Linked DNA regions of Homo sapiens: region 2 is linked to region 1. Evidence: fine-mapped expression QTL. Tissue or cell type: whole blood. Region 1 holds a variant in brackets; the other region holds the start of a gene. All regions are shown on one strand. Distances are between the middles of the regions.

Region 1 (8,101 bases):
CCCCTAACCACCGTAATTATGAAGTCTTGTTGGGGAGAGATGCTTATCTTTAATGTTAAGTGAACAGAGCAGGAGACCAAACGTCCTGCCTGCGTGTGTGCGTCCATGTGCAGAAACGTCTGCCTGGAAACAGGGCTGCCTGAGACCCTGTCACTTTCAAAGTGGGGATGGAGAAATGAGCTGGGGGCACTTCTTACCATTAAAACTGCAATTAATGATATTGATACCTTATTCTTTTATTTTAAAATGTTATCTTTTCTCTTTACCTTAAAAGGAATCAGTTCACTGTGAAATAGGTGGGAAATACATGAACACAAAGAAGGAAATTGAGACCCCATAAGGCCCTGCCACAGGCCAATGACCAGGGTGGGGGTTTTTGTTATGGGTTTTGCCCCATGGCTAGGTGCATGCACGTTTTGTTGTTTTTACATAGTGGAGATGATTCACTGTATTTTTAATATGTATTTTTAAGTAAGTGACTAGTCCCAGGGGTGGGGCTGAACTGAGAATGCACATTCTGTTAATTTAACCAGTAAATCCGATTTTCAAATTCCCCTTACAGGGAGAGAAAGGAGAATATTTTGCTCACTTTCAATCGTTATCGACTCATCCCCCCAAAGCCGGCAATATCGACCCTGCCTTCCAACACACTTCTGGAGCTTGCCCGGCACACGGGGTTGATGCCGGGCGCTCCAAGGGGGCTGGAGCCCTCACCCCGGCTCACACTGGCCTGAGATGAAGAGGCAGCTACAAAGTGCTGAGGCTCAGGTGGTGTCCCTGGAGGAGGCCTCTCTGTGGTTCTCTGTGACTTAGAAAGTCAGAACTAAGGTTGGAGAAGCTCTGTCCTGGAAAGGCATTCTGGGTGGGGGAATGGCCTAAACAAAGGTGGGGAGGCAGGAACGCAGATGAGGAGGCAGGCGGCCCGCAGTTCAGCTGGCTGGGAACGCAGCCAGCTTTTCTTTGGGTGTAGTCTTTTGCGCCCGGGTCATTCTGAAGAGTGACTTGGACTCTGAAGAGGCTCCCTGGTTACTCCCCACTTTTCCTCAAAGCTCCAGCGCTGCTTCCTCTGGGAAGCCTTCCATGGTTTCTCTGACGGAGACACTCCCCTACTCCAGGCCTGCAGCACTCACCTGCATCTCACACTGCGATGCAAAATTTGTGTGATTAATGGGTTCAAATGTGCCCCCCTCCCCTGGACTTTACAGGGTGCTGGAGCTGCTGGCTTGCTGTTCCCAGTGCCAAGTCCCATATGGGTGCTCAGCCATATGGAAGGAAGGTGCTCACAGTCCCCACAATCTATCAACCCACCCTGCGGGTGGAGGTACCGTGACTGTGGCCCCCACACCCCGCCCCTCAAGCTCCTGCCTGGCTGGAGCGCCCGCCTGGACCTGCCTGGCCTCTCAGCTACTTTGTTGTGAGGTTCTAGGCATGGAGATGAGTTTCTAGTGACTCTGGCTTGTTTTCTTCCCTTTTTTCCTGGTGATCTTTCTGTGTAATTAAAAGACAGCTATTTGGCTGGGTGCGGTGGCTCATGCCTGTAATCCCAGCACTTTGGGAGGCTGAGGCGGGTGGATCACCTGAGGTCGGGAGTCGGAGACCAGCCTGACTAACATGGAGAAACCCTGTCTCTACTAAAAATACAAAAGTAGCTGGGCATGGGGGCAGGTGCCTGTAATCCCAGCTACTCGGGAGGCTGAGGCAGGAGAATCGCTTGAACCCAGGAGGTGGAGGTTGAGGTAAGCCAAGATCGCGCCACTGCACTTCAGCCTGGGCAACAAGAGTGAAACTCCCTCTTAAAAAAAAAAAAAAGAGCTATTCTAGGAGACGAGGCAGCTGGAAGCAGAAACGCTGCTCTCTGCTTATGTGTGTGGAAATTTATTGTCTAGAGTACAGAATTCCGCTCGAGGCTCCAGTGTCAAAACAGACGCTAGGGTGAAGACCCAGCCCAGCCTCCCTCCTCAAGCCTGCTCTGCGCCCACCCTTATCCACATGGTGGCTTCCTGGAGCTCTTGCCGCCCCACTGGGTGAGGTGACAGCCTCCATTTCTTGAGGAGCACTAACTCTGCCAGTCTGATGACATCCACAGAACCTGTGAGCCTCACGCCAGGGGGCAACCCAGGCTGACAGCTGTGGTGTCCACCTGGAACCTGCCCCGGAGGGCTTGGAAGTTGTGAAGCCCATACTCCTTCCACCGGGCATGCTGCTGGTGCTGGGTGCCCCGGGGAGCGCAGCAGCACAGCTCCCACCTCCCTGACACAGAAGCCCAAGCCTGTGCTTCTGCCTGGCCTGGCCGTTTGAGAGGCCCCTTCCTTCCCCCAGAACCGGAAACTCCAGGCAATGTCAAGGTCATGCCTAGCCTGGAGGAAGTGCCTGTAAGCGGCCCAGCCCAGAGCACGGCGGGTGCAGCCCCCAGTGGAGACAGCGGGGTCCAACTTCCAGTACCCACTCATTGGCCGCATGCCTCTAGCACAAAGCTGTCTTTCACCCCACTCTGGTCTACAGAATCCTGGGAAATATATTTTCTGGTTGGAAATCCTTTGTTAGTTGGGCCTTCATGGTACTGGCATCTGTGAGCCCCTTTCGGCACCTCTGGGAATGGCCCCCCGCAAACTCGCTGGGTCCCAGGGTGGAGGGTTAGGAGGCCTGGCTGGCCTCGGAGCCTCTGCCTGGCCAGGCCTCCGCCCCTTGGCTCGCCACAGCCCGCAGCTGCTGAGGATAATGCATGCGCTGGCCCGGGCCCAGCTCCCCTAAGCCATGGAGAATTGCAGTTTAGCAAGTTCGTCAAATCCGCCTGAGGCAGGAGCCCAGAGCCACATCTGCAGCATCCAGGCATCCCAGCGGCTTCCTTATCACGTCCGCCTCCACCCAGGGCCTCTTCCCACAGGCCTGGATTAGGCCCCCGGCAGCTGGGCAGGGGTGGGGGCCAGGGGAGCAGGGGACGCTGAGCTGGGGGCCCAGGGCCCCAGCCAGAGAGGCCCCGGTCTGCTCCGCCCTAACTTCCTTGTGTGGCCCTGAGGAGGGAGATGCAGCCTTCTGGGTGGATGGATCCTCCTGCCCATCCATGGGGTCCTGGAGGTGGCAGCCACAGCTGGGCAAACCCATACCCCCAGGCCAGGAAACAGCGGCTGGGCAAGGCTCATGCCGAGGGACCCAGGGGTGGCTTGAAGGGTGCTGGGAGAGCTCGGGCTCCTCGGGAAGGGGGGTGGGTAGAGGGAGCATGGACAGTGGGCCCTGTGCCAGCAAAGCACAGCATCTGGAGGAGGGTGGAGGCAGGAATGCTGTGGGGAGGTGGCCGGCAAGGTCTTAAGAGCCACGCTATGTT[G/A]GTGACGCTGGGTCTGGTGAGCTGCTGGGCTGGAGCAGGAAAGCCAGGAGGGATCTGAGGCCTGGACAGGGGGCAAGAAGTCCCCTCCCCTGCATTCTCAGCCTGGAGCCCAAAGATGTGGCATTCAGAGGCACCTGTTTGGACCATCAAAGCATCTGTGAGGTCTACCAGGCACTTCCATGGCTGGGAAACATCAGTGGCCCCTTCCCCAAGAGGAACACTACAGGCTTCATGAACCACGGGGCCGAAGGGCCCAACCACTCCCTTTAGCCCCTCAGGGTAAGCCCAGCCAGGCTGCTGGGGCATCCACAAGGTCCCAGATGCCACCCAGAGACTTGCTTACCTCCGGGACTAGAGAGCTCACTACCTCATTGAACGTGCATTCCTTTGTGGAGGAGGTCTCATAGCTAGGAAAGGGCTTTCTAGTACTGCTCCGGGGCCACAGCGCATCTGGAGGTGGCAGTCATGACCTTCTGGGCCTCTTTCCTCCAAACCAAGTCTCAGGGCTTCTCCTATCTGTTCCTTGCAAGACCCACCGCAGTGCCCTCTCCTGAACAGGCATCAGTTGTCATTTTCTCCCAGAACTGAGTGTTAGTGCCTAGGTACAGTCTGCAGCCGACTCTCACCTCCCCAGCTATGAATACCATGCTCCTGTTAATTAAGCCCTAGGCGATCTGTGTTTTTTTTTGTTGTTTTTTTTTCTGATTGATCCATCACCCCATTGAGTCTTGCAGGGTGGTGTTGGTCCTTCTGGTGGTAATTGTGAATGAAGCAGGGGGACGACACATCCAGCTTGGGGAAACTGAGGCCCAGAGGGACAAGGCCTGGATCAAAGTTACACAGTTCATGGATGGCAGGGCTCAGGGAAGAGCCCTCCTGACCTCTGCCAGCAGCCTGCCCAGCCAGCACACGGTTCCTCCATCTAGGCCGAAAGATGGGCCTATGTCCATTCTCCCTCCTCCCTCCACCCTTCCCGAGGCCCTCTCAACCCTCAGCCAAGCCAGGGAAGGTAGAACGTGAGCGCCCCGTGGGTCCTCAGATGGTCTTGATTACCGACAGAAGGAGAAAGGCCTTTGCCCTGTGTCCTGCTAACTGTTCCAGGGAATCCAGTGCATCCAGAGGCCTGGGGGCCAAGGTCTCACACAGCTGACCGCGTCCAGCACGTTCTGCAGACTCCGGGTGTTTCCAGAGATCGCTGGGCCTGCACATTCCTTCCTGCTGAGGGAACTCCCCAGCAAGGCAGAGGAGGCGGCCAGCTCCAGGAGGGCCTTGTGGTGGGAAAGGAAAGAGCTTGTGTCCACAGGCGGCTAATGTGCACCAGGTGCTGACGAGTGTCTCTCTTGTGACATGAGAAAGTGGGCGCCACACTCTTCTTCTCTTGCAGAGGAGAATGTGACTTAGAGAGGAGATGATAATGGTGGTCCCCTTCCAGGCTGTTGACAACTGACTTGGTTCATGTGAGAGCTCAGCTCAGAGCCTGGGACCAGTGGGTGTTTACCAGGAATTCTACTGCTGTTGTCCCAAGCCACATGGCTAGGTGGCTGCAGACCAGGGATTTGAACCCGTGTCCAGGAGACAACCCAGGGTGGCTCCTTTGTGGTAAAGGCCACGCTGTTTGGGGATGGTCCTCCCTTCCTGCACTGCCACCAGCCTGATCTCCAACCCAGAGGCTCCCAAGTGGTCACAACCCTGGTTCGAGTGTCCTGAGGACCGGTGGGTGCGAGGCGACAGCCCCTCCCTCCAGTACCGGCTGAGAACGCCTGGCTGTGGGAAGCCGAGGATGACCACCCCTGAACTGGGGTCCCCTTCCCTCCGCCTCCCCCCATTGTCACAGGCCACGTGGGTGTCCTGCGGGCAGGGTTCTGCCACCACCACAGAGGGCTGGCCGGCAGCCCGCAAGTTTCCACCAACTAATAAGTTTTACAAACCTCCAGCCTCATAAAAAAGCTCACAGTGGCCTGAACAACCATGGCCAAGAGTCTTGTGGGAAAGCGGATGGCCTTGAGGCCAGGCAAAGGCGATCTCGGCCAGAGGCCACTTCCTGCCTCTACTCAGACCTTTCCTAAGGCTTCAGACGTGACCATGCCCCTGTGGCCCCCTGGATAAAGACTATGCTCCTCCCTCGAGGGACCGGAAGAGGCCCTCAGCCCCAGCTACCGTGCCCCAGCAGCCCCACGCCCTCCTGCTGCCAGTGAGCTGTCTCTGCACTCCTGCTGCTGAGCGCAGGCCTTTGCGTGGGCCTGAATGCCCTTCCTGTCCCACCATTAGGGACACAGAGATAACTGACACTTCTGTATCCCAGAGGGCCCCCGGGGGACACGGCATGTGATTGGACAGTGATATCACAGGCTCTGACTGGGACCTGAGAGGGAGCAACACGGAGTCCGCATCTGGCTTCTCGTCCGAACGTGGGCCAGGGTAGCAAGGGGGCACCCCGGCTGCAGGAAACAGCAGGCTCCAGGCAGAAGGGTCCATGATGCAAACACGTCCCTGAGCAGCCCGCTGGGGACCGGAGGGGCTGATGTGGAGAGTGCCTGGAGCAGAAGCGAGGGGGCATGGGTGGGGCAGTGGGCTGAAGGAGTGCGTGGGTTGTGGCAGAATTTTCAAGAAGGTGGGAGATGGGGGACACACACGTGGAGGCTGATGCTTTCAGGAGAGAGGGACGTTGGGTTTGTGATTCTGGGGTGGGCCTCTGGGTATGAGCTGGGATTTGGGCACGTAAGAGCCTTGGGCACATGGGGTCTTCAGTGGTAGGAGGATGAGGCCACCAGTAGCATGGCAGGAGGGGAGGGCATGGAGCCAGGACTGGCCCTCAGAGTGGCAGCTTTAGGAGGCAAGGGCAAGAGCCAGGCCTTTGGAGAAAGTCTGGGAAGGGGTCTTCAAAGAGGAGGGGGACTCGGGTCCCAAAGCCACAGGAAGAGGTGTTTCAGCAGGAGGGACCAGTCGGCTGCCTGGGGTGGCCACGACAGGAGCCGGGAGGGGTGTCATCGGCCTGGTAACCTGGGTCCTTGGCATCCTTGGGAGTGGGGGTAGAAGCTGGCGGGGGGCAGTGGCACTGGGTGTGAGCAGCTATGAGAAGATGGGGAGGACAGGCTGAGCTGAGGGGAGGGTGGGCGGGGATCTGCCTCCTGCCCCGTAACCCTGATGCTCACAGGGGCACTCCAAGGAGAGAAGGTTCACTCCGTCCCCTGCCAGGGATTGTCTGTGGGGGGCTCCGGGGGCTCTGCAGGACTTTGATGGACTCCTGGGGAGGCAGCTGTGGTTGTGGAGGGGACGCTGCTGCCCCCCGGAGCTGAGTTCATTCCCCATACCCTGCTCATCATGGTGCAAGCTGTCTGGGCCTCGGCTTGCTCATCTGCACTGTGAAAGCGCCAATGGGAACGTGCCGTGTGCTCCGGGTTGTGGAGAGGACTGGACGCCAAAGGTCCCCACAGGCAGGTTTTTCTGTCCCCGAAGTAGGTGGCCAGAGTCTCATAGCTTCTGATGGAGACTTAGCACTCAGTCTGGACGAGCCTTGGGGAGTTGAAGTATGGGCCTGCCCCTTGGCAGACTCAGAGCTGGCCCTTCTGTAAGTGTGCATTCAATCACATGAAAAGTGCCCAGGTCTGAGGAATCATCTGTTACCCAAGTCTCTTGGCAGCTGTCTCTGCTCAACGTGCTGGAGGGGCTGGGAACCACAGAGGGGCTGGCAGGGGCGGGCCAGCCTCCAGTAGGACCACGGCTTTGGTTTTCCATCTGTAAGTGGGGCTGTGGCTACGTGAAAGTGAGCCTGGAGGCCCGCGCCCCCTGAATCCTGATGAAAGGGTCTTCTGCTGCCTGACTATGGGAAGGAGGGGCCATATGGACCTGGAGCATGTTGACGCTGCCAGGGTCTTCCAACTGGACACAGAGGCCAGTCTCTCCCTTTGCAAGGGTCTTCCTTCAGCTGGCCTCAAAGAGAGGCTTCCAGGACCAGAGGGAAGGAACAGGGAGAGCCAGAGCCCACCTCCTCCTAACTCTGCCCACATTGCCCATGGCAGCTCCGTTTCTCCTCTGGAAGCCTCTCCCAAGGGTTGAAGAGAAGCTGGACCCTCCCAACTCCACACACACTCTGAAGATATGCTTCCTATCTGTGCACACATGATCATAGCAGCATCACACACAGTAGCCAGAAGGTGGACACAGCTGAGTGGCCACTGAAGGGTGGATGGAGAAACAAAATGTGGTCAGTCCACACGATGGAATACTATTCAGCCCTGAAAAGGAAGGAAATGCTGGCCCAGGCTACAACATGGGTGAACTTGAGGACATTATGTTGGGTGAAATAAGCCTGTCACAAAAAGTTAAATATGATTCCCTTTATGTGAAGGAGTCAAAATCATAGAGACAGAAAGTAGGATGGAGGCTGCCAGGGCTGGGGGACAGGGAATAGGGAGTTAGTGTTTAATCTTTTGGGGTTTCAGTTTTGCAGGACGAAAGTTGTTCTGGAGACAGACAGTGGTGATGATTGCACACCAGTGGAAATGTACTTAATACCACTGAAATGTACACTTAAAAATGGTGAAGATGGTAAAGATTCTTTTACTACAATTAAAAAATCAAGATTTAGGCTGGGTGCGGTGGTTCACGCCTGTAATCCCAGCACTTTGGGAGGCCGAGGCGGGCGGATCACCTGAGGTCGGGAGTTCGAGACCAGCCTGACCAACATGGTGAAACCCCACCCCTGCTAAAAATACAAAATTAGCCGGGCGTGGTGGTACATGCCTGTAATCCCAGCTACTCAGGAGGCTGAGGCAGAAG
Region 2 (8,101 bases), 150 kb after region 1:
TCGGCTTAGAGGGGTAGGCACTTGGGGTTTGCTGTTTGTAAAAGTTCAGAGTATGCTTTTTGAGAAGAGAGTATATTTGCCCATGCCTGGGAGATGGGTATAGGAGGACCTTGTCTTCATTTCCTGGCTGGCTCTTAGGAGGTTTGTCCCCTTGCCCATAAGTATGTACATGTGGATAGGAGGCTGCTCACATGGCTTTTGAGGGTTCTCAAGTATGAATTAAAAAAAGAAGAAAAATGTGTGCTTTGAGTTAGATCTGAGAAAAAAAAAAAAAAGGCAGCAAGCTAAGCCATGCGTCTGGGACACTGGCTCGCCTCCAGGATTTCAGGAGAGTTGGGTTTCAGCATGCACAGAGAGAAAGTGCTCCATTTCTCAAACCTGGATTTCCTTGTCTGTTTTCCCCTATAGATACAAATCTGAGCCCTTGAATGGCCTTTTTGAGGGAGGAAGGCATGTATAGCATTGCTCAGATTGAGAAATAGTTCAGATCCAAATATTACTATAGGTTTGGCTCCTTCAAGAATTTCTTCCATTGCTTTGGACCAATAAATATTTAAAAAGTTAGGTTCTGAGCTCCAGAAAAGCCAACAAAAACATTTAAACATATGGATTTTTTTTTTAAATTGTGGTTAAACCATGTTCAGTGGAGATTAGTTTGCAGCAGTCTTTTCTTTCTCTCTTTGCCTCGCATTCCTGCTCCCCCCCCTCATCATTTTCTTTCTTTCTTTTAGGAAGCCAGAAGGGTAAACATGTTGCCATGGAGTTCTGTTTAAAATAAAATACAATGGAAAGAAAAGCAGCATGATGAAGTAACCACATGGACTGCAGGATACACCTGATACTAATTACTGTCATGCAGAATGTTCTGGAAGACATTTGACTCGCCTGATGTATACATTCAAATCAAGCAAAGTAGGACTGGAAGGCTCCTTAGGGACCATCTTGTCCAAGTCTTTCCTTTTTCCAGATGAGGAAGTAGGGGCCCACAGAGAGGGAGGGCCTGGACCTCAGCCTCCCAGCGCGGAGGGAGCAGAGCCGGGATTCAAACCCGTGGTGCTTTGTAGGAAACCCGTAATTTCCACGGTCTTTTTCCTTGGGCTGTCAGTAAGGCCCTGAAATAGGAGAGTGGGGTTTACTGTGAACCTCGAAGGAGCAGGCTCAAGAGCCAGGGGGCCCAGAATAGGGCAGAGGCTGGCTTCTCACTGGGAGGCTCAACTTCCCGCAGGGGCGCCAGGCCCTGACAGGAGAGACTGGACATTAGGTGTCTGGAAGTTTCTCCTTCTAGGGGCTCCAGGAGCATCCCACCTGAGGCCTGGGGCTCCCACCGGAACGTCAACTCATGCCCTTGTGGGGCTGCAGGGCTGACGCGGGCTGGCACTGTGTCTACGACAGCCTCCCGGGCCCCCGGGTGCGTGGCTGCGGATGCTCTCTGGCGGCCACCACAGTTCCCACGCGCGGCGGGTGAATGCGAGCCCCTTGTCAATGCGTGCCCCTCGCCTCTGCCCCCGAGAGGCTAGCAACCGGGCCTGCCGGCGTCTGATTGGCCGTGGGGGCCTGACGACAGGGGCTCCTGGTTGCTGATTGGCCCCGGCCAGCTCTGGCTGTTTCCTAGCTATTAATACTGTGGCTAATAAACGTTCTCCTGTTGACGCGGGTGCTCGGAGCCATGATTTTTTGAAGCGTTCTTGACGTCTGTGGCTGGTGCGGGCGTTTCTGCTGTGCAAGGCCTGCTTCCGGGGCTCTAGTCCCTGGGGCTCCTGGCAAGCTCCACAGGCTGTAAAGGGGGTGTTTTCTTTCTCCTTCGTGTTACCTGACATATTAAAGCAGCGCCCCATGAGGACCCCAACGTCCCACGTCTCTATCTCCCCAACAGTGCGCCTGTTTATGAAAAAACGAGCCCCCCACACGCCGTCCCAAGGCTCGGCGCCTCTAGTGACCTGACGGTCAATGTTCACCTCCCTAGTCATTAGCTGTGGACGTAGAAATAGCCTTTCTCCCTTCTTTTCAGCCCTGGAATCTCCCGTCTGCTTTACAGTCACCTTGTGGGATCGTTGGGCATGGGGGGCTCCCTCTGACGCCGCTTAAACCCCCCAAAGAAGTGCGGGGGAGCGATTCTGACTTGATGCCCTCGGCGGGGCCTCTCTGCTGTCCTCTTTGGGGCCCCTTGCTCATCCTCACCTGCTTTCTGTCACCGAGCACTCCATCCTTGTCCTCCTGGCTGCCACCCACCTGTCACCCTAAGATAGATCCTCGGTCCCTTTCAACAGCATTTTGACCTTTGCGAGAGGACATTTGATTGACGGCCCTGCACGCTCTGCCACTCAGAGCCGGGCAGAGCTGCCGAGGGCTCCCACCTGTTAGGGATTAACTCCCATGTGCCAGCTCCGGAGCCGAGGCCGCGGCAGGGCTCGGCGCAACATGTGTCGCTGCCTGTTTTTCGGGGCGCTGGGGCTCTTTCAAAGGGCATGTGTGTGGGGATCACCCCAACTTTGAGGGGTAGCTCAGGCATCTCCACATGGGACACAGTCCGCCCTCTAAAAGTACTTTCCTTAGAGGGCACGGCTCCTGTCTGGATTCTTATTACAACCCTGGTGTGTGTGGTGGGGGGTACCCCTGGTTAAGGTGGAGGAAGCGGACCCAGTGGAAGAGGAAGGGGCATAGCGGGTTCCGCGAACATGAGTTGTAAGCGGCAGAGCCCGGGACTCCACAGCCAGGGTTTTCTGACTCGGAGACGCGGAGCTCTGTCTCCCATGTCAAAGAGAACCAGTCAGAAACGCACGGGTGGGCTGGGAGGGGGTGACAGCCTCTGGCTTACATCTGGGAACCAGTTATGTCGCCCGGGCATTTTATTTTCCTGAACAATAAGAGAAAGCATGATTTTCTTTCGCTAAGCCCGCATCCTCCGATGGATGTTCCGAAACCGCCAGGTGTGGGATCTGCGCCCCGACAGCCCCACCTTGGCCATCGGCCGCCTGAGGACGGCCAGCCATCGGGGCGATTCCCCCCACACATTGTGCCTGAATTCACCCTGCCTGGCGAGCCGGGCTCACGCAGGGAAAAAGCACCCGCGACCACAGGGTGTTGGTCATGGCGGCCAGGGGCACTGCGGCAGAATTTTTTCCTCCCTTCTTTGCTGCAATCTGGGTGCGGCTAGAGCAATTTGTCATAGAATCTGGGGGGCTCATTTTTCCGGCCAATCACTTTTAGAGAAATGAGCGCATTGCAGCAGAATGCGCTGACGTCAGAGACCACCCCTTCTGCGCCTCCATATAAACCCCACCCAGCCAGCCCCTAGCGCAGACGGCGGAGAGCAGAGAGGGAGCGCGCCTTGGCTCGCTGGCCTTGGCGGCGGCTCCTCAGGAGAGCTGGGGCGCCCACGAGAGGATCCCTCACCCGGTGAGTGGTTGGCCATCCTTGCCGCAAAGGATGTGCAAAAGGAAGACGGCATCCGCTTCTGGGATGGGCTCTGTCCTCCTGGACATGCCGAGAGCCTGCCTGATCCTGGGTCCTGCTGCTGGAGGCGGCCACTTCGCCTGGTCCCCGAGCGTCCGCAACAAAATTTGTCAGAAAGAAAATCTTGAGGCACATTTCCCTGGGGGGAAGTCAGGGCTCCTCTCTGGAGGGTCCAGTCCTTAAGGGTGGGCTGGGTGGTAGGGACTTCAGTTCAGAGGAGCGGGAGGAATCAGATGGAACTCCTCTTGGATTCGGGTATACGGCAGTCACTGGGGGGCGAACCCCGGATTTCCTGTATTAGAAGCCGCCTCTAGAATCGCGTTAATAGTGGGAGATATGGCGGCGATGCCTTCTGCGTGCCCCATGAATTAGGGGGGGAAGCACCCGAATAGAAGGGTCTCCCGGGCATATTTGCCTCGCCAGCTGTTGGCCAGGTTTTTGGTGGATCGTGGGCGGGAGGAGTGGAGGTTCCTCTTCGCGAGGTTTTCCGAATCCAAATACACAGGTTTAGTGCAGTGTGGACCCCAGGCAAAATGTGGAGTAAAATTTCTACCCGATATCATCTGGTTCTGCCCTGATCAGCCACTTTCACAGTGGAGAGAGATGGCGCCCAAGTGCAAACCTGCCAGTAGCCCCCTAGGATCAGTCCTTGCCGAAGGGGGGTCGTGGGATTGGGGGCACTGGGAGAATAGATGCAGGGGGTGGGTTGGGGAGGAGAGAAGGCCGTGTCCTTGGGTCTGGGAAGAGGGAGGAGAGAAATGCAGAAAAGGGGGTGTGTTGCTGGGGTCTGGACGCTGGGAGCTGGGGATGGGGTGCCGCGGGGGTCTTCAGAGCGTTGCGTGGTGGTCGCTCGAAAATCCTGACATGTTGCAGTCTTGGACTTTTGGTCAAATCGCCTTTTGCCATTTCCTTTGTCAGAGTCAAGCCCCCCCAGGCCGCCCCCTCCCACCCTGGGCCGGCGGGCCTGGTGGGGGCGCAGGCGGGTGGCTACGTGGCAGGTTTCTGGAAGGTTTCCTGGCTGGCCGCGAGAGGGCGCTGGCGGCACTGCGGAATTTTGGGGGGCGGGGTGGGGAGGGGAGGTGGCCTTTGTTCTCCTGATGGAGGGGGTCGGGCGCGGGATCTACTGGAGGATCCTGGATTCGTTTACCCAAGAGGGAACAGTTTTGAGACCCCCCGGATTCACTGCGGAGTGGCCGCAGAGGCCGGGGTCGGCCTTTGCGCCGTGGCTTCGGGTGTTGTGGAGGCGCACAGAGGCACGTTAGTTGATTTCCAGTGGTTTTTGGTTTCGGGGGTCTTAGGAAGGTGTGGCTCATTTGAGCAGGATGGAGAGAGAGGCTGTGACAAGGTCAGTGAGGGGCCATCGTGCGGGGGCTAGAAATTGTTGTTGTGGCGAAGGAGGGAGGCACGACTTTGGAGGCGTGATGTTGATGCCTGGGGGCGAAGGCGGGGAGCGGCGTGGTGGCCCCCTTTGCGTTACTTTCCAGCGATGTCACAGGTTCTGTCTCTCGTTCCGAGACCACCCACATGCGTGACAGCGGTGCCTGGAGGACTGGGTCTTTCTGACTTTAGTGAACGTGTGTTTAATTGGATTGACGAAGGTGGGAGTCGGGATTTCTGCTTTTCCCTGTAGCAGGCGGAGCGGCGCTCCAGAGGGGCCTGGCGCAGGTCCGCTGGGTGGCCCACCTTCCTCTGGGGCTGGGGCCCGGTGGCTGGGGGCGCAGGAGGCGCCTGGTGCGGGCGGGAGGCGCTGCGCCGCAGCCACAGGTGGGCTCTGGCTGGTGGTGGCTGGAGAGGCGTCCAGGGGGCGTAGCGACCTGGCGCGGTGGCCTGGGGTGGGCTGTGGAGCCCTTCCTAGCCTGAGACCTGTTGGGCACCCCCTGTCCATCCAGGCCCGCCGGGCGCGGGCCGGGGCGCCGCAGGTGGCTGCTGCACTCCTGGGTTACGGGTGCGGGCCGCGCGCCCCCTAGCGGTGTGTGCCAGCCCCGCTACCTTGGGTTTTGAGTTGCGCACACGCACACAGCTAACACTTGTGACCTGTCAGTCAAATCATCCTTACCCCCTCCCACTCCTCTCCTCCACCTCCCATTTCTCCTCTCCCTCCACCCTTTCTCATTTCCTCGTCCCTCCTCCCCCTCCTATTTTTCTTCTCCCTCCTCCCTCTTTCCTCTTCCCTCCTCCCTCTTCCCCCCTCATTTTCCTCATCTCTCTTTTCCCCTCCCCTTCTCTCCTCCCCTCTCCCTGCCCCCCTCCTTCCTCCCTCCATACCCCTCCCTCTTCCCTCCCAGCCCCTCCCTACTGCCTTCCTCAGTCCTCCCCTTTGCCACTCCTCCCTGCCTTTCCCTCTGCCTGCCCCCTTTTGCTCTCTGCTGTTCCGGTGCTGGCCGTTAGAGGTCACGAAGATGGTTTCTAACCTGCCCCCCTCCCATGCCATAGGGTCTCTCCTCAGGGATGACATCATCCGTCCACCTCCTTGTCTTCAAGGACCACCTCCTCTCCATGCTGAGCTGCTGCCAAGGGGCCTGCTGCCCATCTACACCTCACGGTACTTCAACCCTCCTGCTATCATTTCATAACCAACGTGGCGGGCAGAATCTCCCAACCCCACCACCATCCTTGCACCACCCCCAGACCCACTAGCAATTAAAAGACAATTTTAAATTTTAACTAATCAGCTTTAATTGTAATTAATGAACTTAAACTGTAATTATGATCTAGGCTTGGGCTTTTAAGCAGGTTCTCTAACCTTTGATCAATTGCAGAGGGCACTAGGAGCACGGTTTCCTGGATCCCACCAACATACAAAGCAGCCACTCACTGACCCCCAGGACCAGGATGGCAAAGGATGAAGAGGACCGGAACTGACCAGCCAGCTGTCCCTCTTACCTAAAGACTTAAACCAATGCCCTAGTGAGGGGGCATTGGGCATTAAGCCCTGACCTTTGCTATGCTCATACTTTGACTCTATGAGTACTTTCCTATAAGTCTTTGCTTGTGTTCACCTGCTAGCAAACTGGAGTGTTTCCCTCCCCAAGGGGGTGTCAGTCTTTGTCGACTGACTCTGTCATCACCCTTATGATGTCCTGAATGGAAGGATCCCTTTGGGAAATTCTCAGGAGGGGGACCTGGGCCAAGGGCTTGGCCAGCATCCTGCTGGCAACTCCAAGGCCCTGGGTGGGCTTCTGGAATGAGCATGCTACTGAATCACCAAAGGCACGCCCGACCTCTCTGAAGATCTTCCTATCCTTTTCTGGGGGAATGGGGTCGATGAGAGCAACCTCCTAGGGTTGTTGTGAGAATTAAATGAGATAAAAGAGGCCTCAGGCAGGATCTGGCATAGAGGAGGTGATCAGCAAATGTTTGTTGAAAAGGTTTGACAGGTCAGTCCCTTCCCACCCCTCTTGCTTGTCTTACTTGTCTTATTTATTCTCCAACAGCACTCCAGGCAGCCCTTGTCCACGGGCTCTCCTTGCATCAGGTAGGGGCTTTGCAGAGACCATCGACGGGCTGACTTGAGTAAGAACACGAATTATGCATGTGGCCATTTCCAGAGCACTTTCTATGTGATATGAACATGTGATTTTTATGTAATATGTGTATGTAAACGAGGCAGCCTCATTTCCAGGTGAGGATGCATTTGGTAGTGTTGATTTTTGTAATTTAAAGAAGCTGAAAGGGAGAGAGGACCCGTGAGGACTGAACTCTCTGTCCCATGGGGTAGGGCTTACATTTACATTAAAGAAACAGAAACTTGCTGGGAGGTGTAAGTATTTGGTCACATTGCTGGCAACAGAAGGGGTTGGAGTTGGACCCAGGGTGCCACGCTAGCTGCCCTCACCCCTTCTTCCCCTCTGGCCCAGAGTTATACTAAGAGTCCTTTTATTTCAAACCAAATGTTTGACAATGGGACAGTCTGTTTGAAATCCCAGCTGCCTGGGGTGGTCTTGGGGGTCTGGGTGGCCCCAGTGCTGGTACCATGTGCTGGCTTCACCTTTTAATAACAGTGTGACCTTAAACAAGTCGCTTAACTACTCTAAGTTTCAGTTTCTTTCATGGTCTAAATGGAGATTAAAACACACACACACACACACACACACACACACACACACACACCCCCTCGTGTATCTACCCCACAGGGCGCTTTTGAAGACCAAATGCTGTAACTACTATGAAAGTGCTTTGTAAATTGCTGTGGAAAGTGTGAGCTACTCAAGCACCCGAGGCTGTCCCTCCTTGCTCACATGTCCAGCCCAATTCTCCCTTAGTGAGAACAGCACTCAGTAGGTGCTGTGTGTGTTTGTGTTCAATTAAGAAATTCCAGAATAAATAAAAATGAATTAATTCAACAAACATTTTCTGGGGCACCGACAATCTGCCCAGTGCACCAGGCTAGGTATCTGATACAAAGATAATGAAAACAGTCTCTTGGAACCTAATTGGGGTCCTCATTTGACCAGGAATTTCTTTCGTCCCGTTTTAAGCCAACCAGTTTTGTCCGGACAAGACAAAAACAACTTGGGCTGCTTTAGAGAAGCCCAGCTCAGTGTAGACAATAGCTGCCCAGCCTCTGAAAGGGGCTGATTGGATTATGTGGCAAATGGAGGTGCAAGGATGACTTGGACGGTGACAAATGAAGTGGGCGGAGACCTGC

Evidence for each region. PIP is the estimated chance that this variant, and not a neighbour inherited with it, causes the effect.
Region 2: MEG3 starts here. The variant in region 1 is fine-mapped to the expression of MEG3 in whole blood (TOPMed, PIP above 0.99).

The regions. Positions count from the first base shown.
Region 1 is chr14:100,675,407-100,683,507 of GRCh38, forward strand. No RefSeq gene overlaps it. Among named protein-coding and RNA genes, the nearest start is that of LINC00523, 22 kb to the left of the region's middle. RefSeq lists enhancers at 3,930-4,523, 5,118-5,711. The variant G/A (reference allele first, on the strand shown) is at 3,323.
Region 2 is chr14:100,822,822-100,830,922 of GRCh38, forward strand. It overlaps MEG3 (maternally expressed 3), which reads left to right and starts at 3,297. Exons shown (of 10, transcript NR_190993.1): 1 at 3,297-3,396; 2 at 5,887-5,995; 3 at 6,213-6,928. RefSeq lists enhancers at 897-1,597, 7,832-8,101.